Linked DNA regions of Homo sapiens. The protein of the gene in region 1 purifies or fractionates together with the protein of each later gene. This does not show direct contact. Each region holds a gene or a part of one and is shown in the gene's direction. Other genes may lie near its edges. The genes, in order: HSD17B2 and ARL6IP5.

Region 1 (3,827 bases):
TCTAAGCGTGCTCCTGCTTACCCAGGATGTGGCACAAATAGAACATCCACTGGCTTCCACCAGTCTGCTGAAACTGCTCTCTAAGTGTCACTGGTGTCCTTCTAATCACCAGAGCTTGACTTCTGCTCCAGCACTGCCGACCATACTTTCTTTCTTTTCATGGCCTCGTTAGCCTTGCAGGAACTGCATTTCCATGCTTCTTTGTCCTTTGACTCTTCCGGGTTCTTCCTACACTTCCTCCAAGGTAATCTCTGACTCTGTCTTTACTCCACCTTCTTATATGGCTGCATTCTCTACCCAGCAGCAAAGTCATACCTGCTCCTGTGGTATCAATTATCTCCTCTGAGAGAGGACTGGCAAATCGTGGTTTTGTATACCTGACATTCTTCTGAGCTCCTGACTCATATTTCCAGAATTTTAGCCTGAAACTTTAAATTTGGCATGTTTTAAAAAAAATTTATCATCTCCTCTTGTGATCCTTTTCCCTTTCTTTTCTTTTCTTTTTTTTTTTTTTAATTTTTTATGCACAGAGTCTCGCTCTGTCACCCAGGCTGGAGTGCAGTGGTGCGATCTTGGTTCACTGCAATCTCTGCCTTCCAGGTTCAAGCAATTCTCCTTGCCTCAGCCTCCCGAGTAGCTGGGATTACAGGGGCCCACAACCATGCCTAGCCAATTTTTGTATTTTTTAGTAGAGAGGGGGTTACGCCATTTTGACCAGGCTGGGCTTGAACCCCTGACCTCAAGTGATCTTCCCGCCTCAGCCTCCCAAAGCGCTGGGATTACAGGCATGAGTCACCACGCCCAGCCTCCCACAGTGCTAGGATGACAGGCGTGAGCCACCACGCCCAGCCTCCCAAAGTGCTGGGATGACAGGCGTGAGCCAGAACTATCGCACTTGGCCTCAGTGTCTAAAACTTGGTGGAGGGTGGTAAGTTCCATGCAAACTGGAGCACATACCTCATGACTAGAGAAGGCAGCTGCTTCCTATTTCCAGTCAATTATTGCCACTTTGCCATTTTTGTGGTATTTAAGAGGAAATAGAAAATTGTGGATCTTTGTGTGTGAAATCTCCCATTTAAAACAAGTTGGCAATGATTTCTTTCTTATATTATATTTTATTTTATTTTATTTATTATTTTTTGAGAAGGAGTTTTGGTCTTGTTACCCAGGCTGGAGTGCAATGGCACGATCTCGGCTCACTGCAACCTCCTCCTCCTGGGTTCAAGCAATTCTCCTGCCTCAGCCTCCCAAGTAGCTGGGATTATAGGCACCCACCACCATGCTCAGCTAATTTTGTATTTTTAGTAGAGATGGGCTTTCACCATGTTGGCCAGGCTGGTCTCGAACTCCTGAACTCAGCTAATCCACCTGCCTCGGCCTCCCAAAGTGCTGGCATTACAGGTGTAAGCCACTGCATCTGGTCTCTTTCTTATATTTTAAACAATCCCATAGATCAAACAGAACACATTCTTGTGGCCAAATGTTAGCTTCCAACTTCTGCTCTGGTTCCTGCAGAGAGGAGCAGGCAGAGAAGAAACTTTTCTCTTGCTTATGCAGTTGCATCTCTTGACATCATTTCTGTGGGTTACTTTGCTGTCAGGGCCTCTGTCTTCTTATTCAGGCTATCACAGACTCCTTCAAGGAAGGATGAGGGGAGAAAGAAGCTCGTCTTGGGCCAAGCTTTTCCCTAGTGGAGCACATAGAGCTTTGAGGCTTCCATGTTCCCTCCCATTAGCAAGTGCAATGTGGGGACTGGGGCTCCCCAGGCAGGATCTGGCCACATGCAAGGGGTCTCCCCTGGCCTGCCCTCCTTGTTTCAGGTCACTTGTGATATTGGGGGGAAAGGGGTGAGCAGCCAAGAACAGATCATTCAGCCACTTTAGGGTTTATAAAAATCATATAGATGGCCGGGCGCGGTGGCTCATGCCTGTAATCCCAGCACTTTGGGAGGCCGAGGCGGGCGGATCACGAGGTCAGGAGATGGAGACTATCCTGGCTAACACGGTGAAACCCCGCCTCTACTAAAAATAGAAAAAATCAGCCGGGCGCCGTGGCAGGCGCCTGTAGTCCCAGCTACTCGGGAGGCTGAGGCAGGAGAATGGCGTGAACCCAGGAAGCGGAGCTTGCAGTGAGTCGAGATCGCGCCACTGCACTGTCTGCCTGGGCGACAAGGCAAAACTCTGTCTCAAAAAAAAAAAAAAAAAAAAAAAAAAAAAATCATATAGATAAACTTTATTTCAGACCCAACCATTTCCCAACACCTGAACACCATTTTCAGGATCATCCCATTTCATCCACTGGGGTTTTGAATAATCCCAGTGACAGGGAGTTGACCCCCTATTGGTGGAAGTTATTTCATTTTTATACAATGCTAATGGTTGTAAATATCTTCCTTATAATGAGCGAACTATTCTTCCCTTGAAGTTAACTCTGCTCTTGGAAGTCACATAATCTAATTAAAGTATTATTTTGCATGATTGCCCTTGAAACATGTGGACTGCATCATATCAGAGTCAAATCTTCTTTGAACTAAATCTTCTCATTCCTTTTACCATTCCTCCCATGGCCTAGTTTCCAGAACGTTCATCATTCTATTTAGCCTCCTCTGAACCATTTCCAGTTTCTTTCTTGACATTCCTCTGAGCTGTTGACTCAGAGTTAATATCACATACCATCTTGGTATGAGCAACACAAACCCAGCTGGAACTAAATGAGGTGAAATTAAATCAGAACAGATGCAGGGTTCTTCACCACATGCTGTTGCTTTGTTTGGTGGGGTCAGTCCCTAAACAGAATTTCCCCTGAATTCTGAACCAATGGAGAAATGAGACAGGGGGCTTAAGACATCAGCTTTATTCCTGATAGATGCATTGGAGCACGGGTCTTAGGCATGTGGTAATAACGGTGCTCAGCCAAGGCAAGGTCGAAAAGTCTCAGGCCTCACCCACAGATGGGGCCTGGGCTGGGCAGCTGGGCTTAGCACAGGTGTTTATAGGCTGGGAGGTTGGAAGGAAGAGACAATAGGGTCCACGTGAGGGTCTGGCCTCTTGGATTTTCTCCTCTCCTTCTCAGTCCTGATCATTTCCTCCGAGTTGTCATTTGGTTCTCCTGCTAGAGAGAGAAAAGACCTTTGCACCAGGCAAAATGTTCATGTCCAATTCTTTCTGCCAAACTCACCAATCAGATACTTTGCTCCACCTCCCTGGGGGGAGGAGGGTAGAGGAGCCAGAGGGGCCAGGAACGTCACACTGAAAGCTATCCCTCCATATTGCAGACAGCATAGGAAGTGGGGAAGAAGTGTTCCCCTGTCACACTAGGTCCAGAAAACCAACACTTCTGACTGGGCATGGTGGCTCACGCTTGTAATCTCAGCACTTTGGGAGGCCAGGGTGGGCAGATCACCTGAGGTCAGGAGTTCGAGACCAGCCTGGCCAACAGGGCGAAACCCAATCTCTACTAAAAATACAAAAATTATTAGGGCATGGTGGTGTGCACCTGTAATCCTGGCTACTCTACTCAGGAGGCTGAGACAGGAAAATCGCTTGAACATGAGAGGCAGAGGTTGCAGTGAGCTGAGATCACACCACCGCACTCCAGCTTGGGTGACAGAGTAAAACTCTGTCCAAAAAAAAAAAAAAAAAAAAAAGAGAGAAAAAAGAAAAGAAAATCAACTCTCTGAATAGCGGATGCTGTGTCTAAACTGCAAACTGCAGCTGGTATGAAAATGGTCCAGGGAGGTTTGACTGTGAACTTAAATGGGGTCAGCACTGGGCTGTTTACCCCCAGTGAGCCCCCCATCCATCTTAAGCTTCCCTCTTAAGATATAC
Region 2 (2,655 bases), on another chromosome or scaffold:
CCCCACCATTTTCTAACCTCTGTGCCTTAGCTTCTTCATTTGAGAAATGAACTAATAGTATCTCCTTTATAAGGTTATGAGAAATCAAATGAGACAATTTAGATAAAGTATTAAAGTATTAGTAAGTTCTCAATAATTGTTTTTACTCCTCTTTCTCCTTTTGCTACTTCTATTGCTGAACTAGTCACCCCTCATTTTTTCTTCCTCATATTTCAGGTTTCTGAGTCCCTTCAACATGATCCTGGGAGGAATCGTGGTGGTGCTGGTGTTCACAGGGTTTGTGTGGGCAGCCCACAATAAAGACGTCCTTCGCCGGATGAAGAAGCGCTACCCCACGACGTTCGTTATGGTGGTCATGTTGGCGAGCTATTTCCTTATCTCCATGTTTGGAGGAGTCATGGTCTTTGTGTTTGGCATTACTTTTCCTTTGCTGTGTAAGTGAACTTGAGTTTTTTCTTCCATCATCAAAAAAATGTAGAAGCAATTATCCAACGGGAATTCCATAACCCATTTCTTATATGTGTTGGCATGTCAGCAAAAGTGTCAGAATTTTCTAAAACAGCTTTCTACTTGTTATCCAACTAGACCCAGATAACACAGAACTGAGGTCAAGAACTATGAGGTCAAGGCCTTATAGTTCATTAATTCCACAAATATTTGTTGGGGCATCTGCTATGTGTCATACATTCTTTTGTTGTTGTTGAGATGGGGTCTACTCTGTCACCCACGCTGTGGTGTTATCTCGGCTTACTGCAACCTCTGCCTCCTGAATAGCTGGGACCACAGGTGCACACCCAGCTAATTTTTTGTGTTTTGGGTAGAGACCGGGGTTTTACTATGTTGCCCAGGCTGATCTCGGACTCCCAAGCTTGAGTGATCTAGCTTCCTTGGACTCCCCAAGTGCTGGGATTACAGGCGTGAGCCACTTCGCCCAGCTGTGTGCCATACATTCTTATGGGGACACAACAGTAAACAGAACAAAGACAAATCCCAGGTCATACAGCAGGAATGTGGCATAACCTGCACTAGACTCCAGATTTGTCTAATAAGAGAGTCTATTCTCAATTTTTAAGTGCCATTCCTATTGTCCTGACACAGGAATGAATGTATTTATTATTTGGAAGTAGACTATTTATTCTCCACTTGCTCAGGAGATCATAACTAGTGTTAAAAGTTTGGTAAGTCTATAGGAATAATTGGCTCAGAATATAGGTACTAAATACTCAGATTCTGGTGAAGAGATCTAGATATTCTCTAAGTTTTACATGAATTATTTACTAAGACTCCAAACACTTGAAGCCTGAAATAGACAAGAAATAAAATCCCAGCCTAATCAGCAGAAATCTGATTAAAATTCTAGTATATTAAGTGACAGGCACATCCCTTTAACTTTCAATAACATTTGACATGTGCACTTATTCCACTAAATGAAATTATTTGCTTGTTTAGGGCTTTGTTAGATTAAGTCCAGAATATTTATGGATACATCCCATACCCTATTGGATAAAATATCTGAGCCAACAAATTCACACATTTTTGGAATTTTCTTCAGGTTTTCTGTAGGTGCTTAACGCTTAGTATTTCAATGATACTGTTTAATCAAACAGCTTGCTAATTTTAATACCTTTCCACATCAGAACCTGAGACAGGCCAGTGTAACGAAATGTATCAGAGGTAGACAGTTAAGAGTCCTGATTTCTATTCTTAGACCTGCTGGAAACCAGCATGTGATTTGGACCAGTCATCCTATATGGGCTGTAGTTCACTCATCTCTAAAGTAAGGAGATTAGATAAGTGATTCCCAAACGGATAATTGTGACAAGCATTCAGGATACTTTTTAAAAATATACATTTCCCAGCCACATCTTTATTTTGTGGGTCAACAGTGGTACCCAAGGATGTTAGGTTTTTAGAAAGCTCGTCAACTATTTCTAACGGGTGGTCTAGGTTGAGATCCTCCAGATGAATCCACATCAGGGTTTTTCAAAATAAGGGTCCAAGATCCACCTACATCAGAATCATCTGGAGTGATTATTAAAATAATGAATTCTGGAGCCTTCCCTCAGTTGTAACAGTCTGAATTTGGGGTGATGGAGACCAGGAATTTGCCTATTTAACAGGCTCTCCAGGTGATTTGAATGTACATGGAAGTTGTAAAACCACTGGTATAGATCATATGGAGAGAGGGTTACCTGTTTAAAATACAGATTCCCAGGCCTGTCTCTTTAAGGCTCAGGTGGAGGAGGTCCAGGAAAGGGGATAGGGAATCTGTGGTAAAATAATCAAGCAAGTTTGGGGAACGGTAGGCTATAGAAACTCTGTAAAGCCCTTAGATTTTTACATCTAGAATTCTATACCCAACACTTTGGGTAAAGCCTCCGGGAGGCACTTTAAAAGTGGACTTTACTCACGTGCTCCTGCAGGGAACAAGATACAGATAATCCCGAATCGAGCAAGAGTTCTTTTCTGGAAAGCCTCGGGTAAGTTGATTTTTAAGTAGGATGGAATCCCGTTGATTCACTCTGAATTTCAGGACATTTAAGTAGCATCTGCAAGGTGATGATATCAGTGTGTGAAGGAAAGGGTGTGGCTTCCAGATAATGGTCCTTCCTGTTGAATACAGCATTTTCCTTTAATGCAGAAAAAAAACTATGT

What was found.
Region 2: the proteins of HSD17B2 (region 1) and ARL6IP5 purify together in Homo sapiens (affinity purification with mass spectrometry; one large-scale study listed by BioGRID and IntAct). This does not show direct contact.

Annotation. Positions count from the first base shown.
Region 1 is NC_000016.10:82,041,498-82,045,324, forward strand, and holds part of HSD17B2 (17-beta-hydroxysteroid dehydrogenase type 2), read left to right. Parts: intron 1-2,838; exon of another isoform or gene 2,839-3,827. UniProt on the Homo sapiens protein: Catalyzes the NAD-dependent oxidation of the highly active 17beta-hydroxysteroids, such as estradiol (E2), testosterone (T), and dihydrotestosterone (DHT), to their less active forms and thus regulates the biological potency of these steroids.
Region 2 is NC_000003.12:69,101,623-69,104,277, forward strand, and holds part of ARL6IP5 (PRA1 family protein 3), read left to right. Parts: intron 1-216; coding exon 217-434; intron 435-2,655. UniProt on the Homo sapiens protein: Regulates intracellular concentrations of taurine and glutamate. Negatively modulates SLC1A1/EAAC1 glutamate transport activity by decreasing its affinity for glutamate in a PKC activity-dependent manner.